Homo sapiens: one gene and its partners. The protein of the gene in region 1 purifies or fractionates together with the protein of each later gene. This does not show direct contact. Each region holds a gene or a part of one and is shown in the gene's direction. Other genes may lie near its edges.

Evidence for each region.
Region 2: the proteins of FLYWCH2 (region 1) and C10orf88 purify together in Homo sapiens (co-immunoprecipitation; one large-scale study listed by IntAct). This does not show direct contact.
Region 3: the proteins of FLYWCH2 (region 1) and SELENBP1 purify together in Homo sapiens (affinity purification with mass spectrometry; 2 studies listed by BioGRID and IntAct, with this or other methods). This does not show direct contact.

Annotation. Positions count from the first base shown.
Region 1 is NC_000016.10:2,896,388-2,899,865, forward strand, and holds the end of FLYWCH2 (FLYWCH family member 2), read left to right. Parts: 5' UTR 1-62; coding exon 63-384; intron 385-2,388; coding exon of another isoform or gene 2,389-2,459; exon of another isoform or gene 2,460-2,567; intron 2,568-2,661; coding exon 2,662-2,762; 3' UTR 2,763-2,978; downstream 2,979-3,478.
Region 2 is NC_000010.11:122,937,180-122,940,831, reverse strand, and holds part of C10orf88 (ATPase PAAT), read left to right. Parts: intron 1-2,672; coding exon 2,673-3,127; intron 3,128-3,652. UniProt on the Homo sapiens protein: ATPase that regulates mitochondrial ABC transporters ABCB7, ABCB8/MITOSUR and ABCB10. Regulates mitochondrial ferric concentration and heme biosynthesis and plays a role in the maintenance of mitochondrial homeostasis and cell survival.
Region 3 is NC_000001.11:151,363,661-151,366,763, reverse strand, and holds the end of SELENBP1 (methanethiol oxidase), read left to right. Parts: coding exon 1-42; intron 43-310; coding exon 311-489; intron 490-917; coding exon 918-996; intron 997-1,079; coding exon 1,080-1,201; intron 1,202-1,482; coding exon 1,483-1,575; intron 1,576-1,719; coding exon 1,720-1,838; intron 1,839-2,058; coding exon 2,059-2,221; 3' UTR 2,222-2,460; downstream 2,461-3,103. UniProt on the Homo sapiens protein: Catalyzes the oxidation of methanethiol, an organosulfur compound known to be produced in substantial amounts by gut bacteria. Selenium-binding protein which may be involved in the sensing of reactive xenobiotics in the cytoplasm.

The DNA of each region.
Region 1 (3,478 bases):
GTAGGAGAAATCCACCTGCTGGGGGCTGAGTGTGGCCTGAGGGACAGGCCCTGGGTCCCGGGATGCCCCTGCCCGAGCCCAGCGAGCAGGAGGGTGAGAGTGTGAAGGCCAGCCAGGAGCCATCCCCCAAGCCAGGCACAGAAGTCATCCCGGCAGCCCCCAGGAAGCCCAGAAAGTTCTCCAAACTGGTCCTGCTCACAGCCTCCAAAGACAGCACCAAGGTGGCGGGGGCCAAGCGCAAGGGTGTGCACTGTGTCATGTCCCTGGGGGTGCCCGGCCCCGCCACCCTTGCCAAGGCCCTCCTCCAGACCCACCCCGAGGCCCAGCGGGCCATTGAGGCAGCCCCTCAGGAGCCTGAGCAGAAACGGAGCAGGCAGGACCCAGGTGAGGCTCCACAGCGGCCCCCCAGGACAGCTCGGCACCTCCCAGGGTGGCCCCCACAGCCGCGCTGGCTCCATCAGGCGCTTCTCCCTGGCATGCGGGTCCTTGTTCCCTGACTTTGACCACGTGTGGAGAGCAGTGGCACAGGGGTTAGGGCACAGGCCTGGGCATCCGCCGACCTCCAACCCTGCCTCTGAGCGGCCTTGCCTCTCTGTGTCTGTTCCCCACTCTGGAATGCGCTGCCTACTGGCTCCTTCACAAGGGAGGGTCTGAGGGTGCGGCGGGGCCCACAGGCAGCTGCCGTCAGCTTCAAGGTCTTGGCTCGCAGCTGTTCGATGAGGGTCTCTAAGACCGGGGGCTTGATGGGTCACCTTTCCATATGTTCTAGAAAGCTTCTTTGGTCTCACTCACCGTTCAGTCACTTAGTAACATCCACTGAACAGCAGCTGTGTGCAGGCTGGGCTCTGGAGACTCGAGTCACGCAGGATGAGACTCCCAGCAGACTAAGGCAGTGACCTCAGCCTGGCTCTCCGGGACTGCCCCTGCTCTCCCTACCTCCTCTGCACAATCACCCCCCACCAAGCCTCCGGGGAGATACAGCTCAGGGCTCACAGGTCCCATGGGAGAGTGGGGCTGGGGGTGTGGCCCTAGCTGCTGCGGGCTGGCTGGAGGTGATGGGGCAGGTTCATTCCCTGTGCTTTGCTGTGGGAGTGATGGGATGGATGGAGGCACTGAGCATCTTCAGTCCCTGCTCCCACTCCCCAGGGCCCTTGGCTCTGCCCCTGCTGTGTACTAGACCTTTCAGCTAGACTTGGGGAACATAGTCAGGTGGGCCATGGTAGCAGAGATGGGATGAGAGCAGGGCTGCCCCTTTCCCTGCACCCAGCTCTCCCTGAGGTGGCCCAGGCCATGCCCTGCTGTCCCCTGCAGGAGGACAGGTCCCCTCCTGGCCCCACAGCAGGTCCTGCCTCTGGGCTCTACCAGGGCAGGCAGCGGTGGGGGCAGGGCCCTAGGCAGCAGAGGAAATGGGCTGGGTACACCTTTTGAACTGGAAGTTCCAGGGAGATGGGGCAGGGGGCTGCCCAGTGGGTGGGAAGAAGGTGAGTTGGGGTTTCTTCCCAACTGGGAGTGGGCTCTGCCGTGCCCTGAGAAGAAGAGGCGTAGCAGGTGGCCTTGGCTTGTGACCTCTGAACAGGTGGTCCCCTGGGGTCAGCCAGAACAGGTGGTCCCCTGGGGTCAGCCAGGGCACTCAGCCTGGCAGCCCATTGTGAGAAAAGGTTCCTTCAGTTTGCTGGCCGTGCAGGGACCCTGCCTCACTGATGGAAATTGAGGGGTGAGTGGCCTGAGGTCACAGAGGGTCACAGCCCCACAGCCTCCCTGGGGCTGAGACCCCAGAATGCCTGAGATGGTGGTGTCCGCAGCCACAGGCTTGGAGCTTTCAAGGAACCTAATGGACCCCTCGGCCTCCATCCCTCTGCTGGAGTCTCAGGCCTGGTGTGAGCAGTGCTCTGGGACTCAGAGGGACCCCGTCCTCCCAGAGCCGGTGGGAGTGCCTGGCTCTTACTGCGAAGCCCCCACCATCCAGTCCTGCTCTGAGAGCCTCTGCCTGTCCCCCTGGCTTCTCCTGCCAACCTTGGGCAGAGGATGCAGTCCCCATGGCCTGTGGGAGGCAGGGCTCAGAGGAGCGAAGTCGCCACTCTGAGGCCACCAGGAGGTCCCTGCAGAGGGCAGAGGGGGTTGGAGTCTGGCTCAGGATCTGTTACACCTGAGCTCTGTGGAATGAGACCATCTCAAGGTCCTCCCAGCCCCTTTGAGACTCCTGCTCACTGCTGGGATCCATCTAGGCCTGGGGCCGTGGTGCCTTTGTGAGAATTGGAGCACAGCCATCTTCGCCAGATGAAAGGCAGAGCAGGGCTCCATCAGGCGCCAGGGGTCCCGCAGGCAATCACCCTCAGGCATCGACCACCCCCATCTGCCAACTCCTCCATCCTTCCATCCCCACCCCAGGTCCAGCAGAGGCGATGGCTGCGGCTTCCCAGTGCTCAGCACAAACTTGGCCTCAAGTTTCCTGGAAATGACTTTAGCAGCTTTTGTGGCCCTGGCCTGGTGGCCTTGGGAGCAGCGTCCCTGAGTGGCAGTCACTTCTCAGTCAGGCAGAGGCTTCTGGCCCTGGAGCATCCACTGGTTGGGGTGAGAGTGAGGCCTGGTAGACCCCCAACAGCCAAGCTGAGCCCTCCCATCTCCATTGACACCAGCCTGATCCACCCTCTTCTCTCGCAGGCACAGACAGAACAGAAGACAGTGGATTAGCAGCGGGGCCTCCTGAGGCTGCTGGGGAGAACTTTGCCCCCTGCTCTGTGGCGCCCGGCAAGTCCCTGTAACCTTGACAACAGGCGCATCCTCCCAGGCCACCAACCCAGCCATAGGCTCTTCTCTGTCCGCAGGGCTTCTGGGGCCAAATGGGTGAATCTTTGCTTTTAACATTGTGTGATTTCTTTTCTTTTTTTTTTTTTTTTTAGATCAAGTATAAGTTACTTTTGTAAGCAGAAAAATACTTTCAAACAAGAATAAAAGAAGCTGTTCGCTAGACCCCATAATGGGCAGGTTTTAAACATCCCAGGCTTCTGGGTCCTTTGAGGCTCAGCTCTGATGCCACCACCCCTGGGTCTCCGCACCCCAGCCCTTACTGGGCCCTTCCAAAGTGCCCCTTAGTCACTGCCCTCCCTGACCCAAGTCTCGCTTCCTCCATGAAGCCTCCCAGACTGACAGCTCCCAGGCACTAAGGGAGCTCAGGCTTGCTGAGAATGGTAGCTCCAGGATTCTGCTGAGGGAGAGGTAGGCCTGCAGCTCATGGGTGGGTTCAGGGAGGAACCTGACAAAAGCACATGCGGCCTGCCTGTCATGTTTTTTCCAGGGGATTTGTGGGCTGAGGAAACCTGAGTTCCTGCCCTGGCCCCCTGGGTGCCATCCCTGCTGGAGGGGAGATGAAGGAAGCACAGCTACCCTACTTGAGCTCCCAAGTCAGCGAGCCTCCAGGAGGCTTCCCATGAGTCCTCATTCTTTGACAACTGCCTCTGGGCTCAAGGCAATGTTAGGG
Region 2 (3,652 bases), on another chromosome or scaffold:
CAATAAATACAGCTTTCTATGGTTTTATGAATATTATGCAGTTACCTATTCATGGATATTTAAGTTTCTTCAAAATTTTTAATAGCATGTTAACAGTGGAGGCTCACATAAAGAGAAATAAAGGATTAGCTACCAGGCACCTGAGATTTCTTCATTTCCTATAGTGGCATGTAGACATATCTGAATTTCTTGATATTTATTCCAAAGAGAAAAGATCATCTAAAGAGCTCTCATCTCAGAAAATGTGACCTTTTTTAAATTGTGGTAAGAATACTTAACATGAGATCTACCCTCTTAACAAATTTTTAAATGTACAATATGGTGTTGTTAACTATAGACACTGTTGTACAGAAGATCTCTAAAACAGATTCATCTTGTAAAGCTGTAACTTTATACCTATTGAATAGCAATTCATTTCTCCTTCCCCCCATCTCCTAGCAACCACCATTCTACTCTCTGTTTCTGAGTTTAACTATTTTAGATATGTCATGTTAATGGAATCATCCATTATTTATTCTTCTGTGCCTGGCTTATTTCACTTAGCATGTCTTCCAGATTGATCATATTGTCACATGACAAAATATCCTTCTTCTCAAAGGCTGAATGGTATTTCATTGTATGATATTCATTCAATGATATTTCATTTCATTTTCTTTATCAATACATCAGTCAATGGACATTTAGGTTGTTTCTGTATCTTGGCGGTTGTGAGTACTGCTGCAGTGAACATGGGAGTGCAGATAATCTTTTTGAGATCCCAGTTTCAGTTATTTTGGATATATGCCCAGAAGTGGGATTGTTAGATCATATGGTAGTTCTATTTTTAATTTTTTGAGGAGCCTCCATACTGTTTTTCATCACTGCTATACTATTTTACATTCTTAACCAATGACTAATTTTCATAATCAGTGAATTCTTATAAACAGAATATTATATGTCAGAAAGGAAAAATTTACATAGCAAATACCTTTACATTTAGATTTTTCTGTTTAAATGTTCTGCCTACTTAATGTTCACCCATACTTTTGACATTGACTGTAGTGTAAATATTATTACTCTTAATGTAGTTTTCCACTGTACATTTTGTTTTGAAATGTCATAGAGAAATAAATGGGCTTTCCTGTTATGACTGAGTAACTTTCTTTGAGCTTATGGGGAGTTGTCCAATGTTAACATTTTATAAATATAATTTTACATAATTCATCTTATTCCAGGAATATTTAAATATTCAAGTTTATTCAAAACTTGCATTTTATAAAACAAGATAAACTTACAGTAGGTTAACATTTCTCTATAAAGAGCACTTTTCCAAAGTGCAGTTTGGTAAAAAGTTAGATGGGGACATGACATTACAAATCTTCCCCCAGCTTCCCTGGCCCTTATTATTCTCCTTTCTCACTTTATTTTTCCCTAAAGTATTTATCACCATCTCCATTTCATGATACATTTTTTCCTTTCTTTTCTTTTCTTGACTTTTTTCTCTTCTTCCTTCTTCACTTCTTTTCTCTTTCCCTTACTTTCTCTTTTTCTTTTCTTTCCCCTTTTTCCTTCTTTTCTTTTGTAGTTTGTGTCTCCTTGCTCCCCTGTCATATAGGCTCTGTGAGGTCAGGGATTTTAATTTATTTTGTTCGCTGCTGTATTTCCAGTGCTTGAAACAATACTAGCACAGAGTAGATTCCTGGTAAATATTTGTTGAATAAATTAATGTTGTTCCGGCTTAGTCTAGTAATAACTTTTTAGAATATCTATAAGTATATGAACTGAGTTTCTTCAGCTAATTTACATATTGCTTTTTCAGTCTGTTTCACCAGCTGTTGAACAGCAATAAGTGTGGGATGATAACCCCTGATAAGAATCTATAGTAGACTTTTATGTTTTGAATTTAGAGTGGAGCCATATGCCTTAAGACTTAGGCTAGAGATATTTTCTTTTATCCAATGGAAAAATTAAAGAGCATAAAAGGGAGATACTGTAATCATCCCTTCAAGGTAAGCCAGAATCTTCTCAGGAAATAATACTGCATAACCAGTTGAATTGAGGCTGCAAAACAACTCTCATTATCCTGGAAATTCTTAGAGCAAACACAGCCAGAAGTAGCTAATTTCAGTCATTGAAAATGTCACAAATGTACCCATAGAGCATCTAACTTTAAATAGCATACCTATCTGTGTAGTTTCCAGGAAAAATTCATTGCAAAAGATATTACTAGATGAAAGTGAGTAACTTACCGTATTTTGACAGTTGGGAATGATATAATTGAATTTTAAGAAACTTACCGGTTCTTGTGACTCAGTTGAGAGTAGTACATTTTATTATCATAAAGAGACATTTGTAGTGGAAACATTAGTGTCAGTGCAGTTTGACTATTCATGCTAGTATTTATTTAATTTCTTTTGGGAAAAACTACAATGAAATGATTGAAAGTCATGACTGTGGAGTTAAGTGACCTGCGTTCATGTTCCAGTTCTGCCACTTACTGGCTGGTTACCTTGGCTAGGTACCTTTAGCCTTGGTCTCCTCAGCTTAATATTGGGATAGTATTAGTGGCCTACTTTATAAGGATGTTTTGAGGATTGGATGAAACAATGCACAGTGCCTGACTCATAGTAATTACTCCAAAAGTTAGCTGTCAGTGTTATTAATATTAACATTTACTTGTTTACCTTGTTTAGAATTGTATTCCCATTGGAGAGCAGCTTCAGTCGGTGTTGGGCAATTCTGGATACAAGCATATGATTGGACTACAATCCTCATCTACCTTAGGAACCTTAAACAAGTCGTCCTCCACACCTTTTCCTTTTAGAACTGGATTGACATCTGGGAACGTGACTGAAAACTTACAAACTTACATTGATAAAAGTACACAACTGCCTGGTGGAGAGAATTCTACCAAGCTTGATGAGTGTAAAGTTATGCCTCAAAACCATTCCTTTCTTGAAAATGATCTTAAAAATGCAATGGCCTCTTTCTTACCAAAGAAAGTAAGTGACAACTCAAATATACCCAACTCCGAGTTGCTGCCTTTTCTCCAGAATTTATGTAGTCAAGTTAATCATCTCCATGTGGGAAATAAGACCGAGTGTCAGGAAAACATCACCAAGCATGGTGAACGCATTCTTGGTGTTGGGTAAGTATTATTTTAAGACATACGAGTTTCGATTTGGTAGGTGGAAGAATCAGATGAAAGGAAACAGATTTGTCTCAATGAGTACTGCCTAAAATTTGTTTCCAGAGAAAATTTTAGCAACTTTTACATTTTACCATTAATACACTTAAAGGGGATAACTGCAGAGTAGAATGGATTACTTTGAAAGAAGTCCCTATAACTGGAGGTTTTGCACACTTCCCAGGCATTTTGTGGAAGGGTCACAAGTATTAGTTCACAGTTGGAATAGAAAGTGATTTGCATGAATGGAAAGGAGCTGTGGGAATTATAATCTTTATGTTGTTTTTATATATTTGTACTATTTTGTGCCTGGGTATGTTAAGCATGTCATTGTGACATTTTCCTTGAAGATTATGTTTGGTCTAGGCAAATTCCTGATTATTAAAAAACTATATTAGGATAATAATCACTTGTAGTTTACAAGCTATTATCCCCAGTCTCTTAATCCCTTATTTTGGCAGTACATATTTGATTAAGAGATAGCTA
Region 3 (3,103 bases), on another chromosome or scaffold:
ATGTCTTACGAGATGGCTTCAACCCCGCTGATGTGGAGGCTGGTGAGAATCCCCCCATGTGCCAGCAGGAGCCTTGGGCCTACATCCCCTTGCTTTCTGCTCCAAATCTCCCACCCCCACACTTCCCTCCTGTGGCCCCAGAATCTAAGAGAGATGGCATAGGATGTACCGCATGCTCAGATTGCTCAAGCGTCTTCCTGATCCCTCCAATCCATTTCTTAACCTTCTGCCCTGATTGGTGGCCCAGTCTTTGCCCATGCCTTCCAACCTCTGATGCTGAGCCTATCCTCCGGCCCCACTCCCACCCCAGGACTGTACGGGAGCCACTTATATGTATGGGACTGGCAGCGCCATGAGATTGTGCAGACCCTGTCTCTAAAAGATGGGCTTATTCCCTTGGAGATCCGCTTCCTGCACAACCCAGACGCTGCCCAAGGCTTTGTGGGCTGCGCACTCAGCTCCACCATCCAGCGCTTCTACAAGAACGAGGTGACATACGCCCTCTGGCCCTCCCCTCCCAGTAGTCTTGTCAGCAGCTCTACCTAAGCAGGCTTCTGTAACGGTGCTCCCAGGCGTCTCCAGGAACGAAAAAAATGAGGCTGCATGCCCTGTCTCTCTTCTCTCAGTGCTAGGGCAACTTCTGCCTGAACCCTAACTGGCCGTATTTATCCATTCATTCAAAAACTACTTAGTGAATGTCTGTGCTAGGCACTGTGCTATGTTCTGGGAATGCAGTGGTGAAGCAGACACAACCCCTGCCTCAAGGGGCTTGCATGGAGTTAGATCCTGCTGGCAAGAAGGCCGGGCATCTATTCTCTCCCTCCCAGGTCTGGGCAACCCAGATCTAACCCCTAGTCCCCAATTCTGATAGGCTGACCTCTCTGCCAGCTAACCTCACCCTCCACCCCTCAATGTAGGGAGGTACATGGTCAGTGGAGAAGGTGATCCAGGTGCCCCCCAAGAAAGTGAAGGGCTGGCTGCTGCCCGAAATGCCAGGTGAGTGCCTAGGGCATAGGAAAGTTGATTCTTGGCCTGGGAAACAAGAGTCCTTAAAGGCTCTACTCGCCCCCTGCCCACAGGCCTGATCACCGACATCCTGCTCTCCCTGGACGACCGCTTCCTCTACTTCAGCAACTGGCTGCATGGGGACCTGAGGCAGTATGACATCTCTGACCCACAGAGACCCCGCCTCACAGGACAGGTGGAGACCCTGGCAGGAGGAGCAGAAGGGAAGGAAGGAAAGAGAAGAGAAGCTGGGGATGGGGTGGATGATCTGAAGCAGCTGCAGGATGTTGAGGGAGGTGCAGGAAAAGCAGACATGTGTGCTGTGGGACAGCACAGGCCCAGGACTGTCCAGGCCAGGGATGGGCATGCAGAGCATGTCTGAAAGGAGAGAGGGGTTCCAGCCAGGCAAGCTGCTCTTCCTGCAATGTTTGCGCCTCCCACTATGGTCCTCCTTATACTCTGCACCTCCCCATCTAGCTCTTCCTCGGAGGCAGCATTGTTAAGGGAGGCCCTGTGCAAGTGCTGGAGGACGAGGAACTAAAGTCCCAGCCAGAGCCCCTAGTGGTCAAGGTAAGAGCCTCTCCCCCTACTTGCTGGACCCCTCAGACCCATGCTTGAGGAATATGTGGGGGAGCAGCTGAGCATACTCTTGGGGTTGGGGTGGTGCCTAGGATCTGTGTGTTACCCTGGGCTCTGACCCCTGGTTTTCCCAAGGGAAAACGGGTGGCTGGAGGCCCTCAGATGATCCAGCTCAGCCTGGATGGGAAGCGCCTCTACATCACCACGTCGCTGTACAGTGCCTGGGACAAGCAGTTTTACCCTGATCTCATCAGGTGAGAAGCAGACACATGGGCTCTCCTCCCCAGCCCTCCTCTTCCAGAGGGGTCATTTGGCTTTCTGAAGACTCCTCAAGGAGACCCCTGTACCCCACCACACAGATGGCCCATTGAGACCCTGGTCATTCCTCCTTCCTCAGGAGCTTTCCCCTAAAATCTTAGGGGAAGGGGGCAGCCACCTCTGACCTCTCCCTTACCCCATTCCCTTTTCCACCAGGGAAGGCTCTGTGATGCTGCAGGTTGATGTAGACACAGTAAAAGGAGGGCTGAAGTTGAACCCCAACTTCCTGGTGGACTTCGGGAAGGAGCCCCTTGGCCCAGCCCTTGCCCATGAGCTCCGCTACCCTGGGGGCGATTGTAGCTCTGACATCTGGATTTGAACTCCACCCTCATCACCCACACTCCCTATTTTGGGCCCTCACTTCCTTGGGGACCTGGCTTCATTCTGCTCTCTCTTGGCACCCGACCCTTGGCAGCATGTACCACACAGCCAAGCTGAGACTGTGGCAATGTGTTGAGTCATATACATTTACTGACCACTGTTGCTTGTTGCTCACTGTGCTGCTTTTCCATGAGCTCTTGGAGGCACCAAGAAATAAACTCGTAACCCTGTCCTTCAGATGGCCTTGTCTTTGGGGGCCCAGGGCCTGTGTCTCTTCTTCTGCCTACCCTTTGTATCATGCACAAGAAAGGGCTAAAGAGGCCTCCAGTGGGGGTTATGGTAACTAGTTCACACCAGTGATTCCAACATGATGCTAATAATGCCCAAATCTCAATTTTATGGCCAGACAAAATCTGAAAATTTTGGGGGTGATCGTCACAAGGAGACCTGGGGGTAGAGAATGTAAATCGGTGTTTCTAAAGTTTTGGTTTTTTTTTAACCCATGCTTTCTTTTAATGAACCTAAAAATCTCACCCATCACTCTCAAGAGAATGTAACATGCTCCCTCACACACAGGAGACCCCAGGATCCCTGTTGTGTATAGTGTAATATATTTCCACTGATGGCAAGACGACTGGGAGAACGCAGCTGTTGGGAGGTTTATCAGGCTGCTCTTGCATTGCTATAAATGCCTGAGACTGGGTAATTTATAAAGAAAAGAGGTTTAATTGGCTCATGGTTCTGCAGGCTCTACAGGAAGCATGACACTGGCATCTGCCCGGCTTCTCAGGAGGCCTCAGGAAACTTACAATCATGGCAGATGGTGAAGGAGGAGCACAAACATCACACGGCCAGAGTAGGAGCAAGAGAGAGAGAGCAA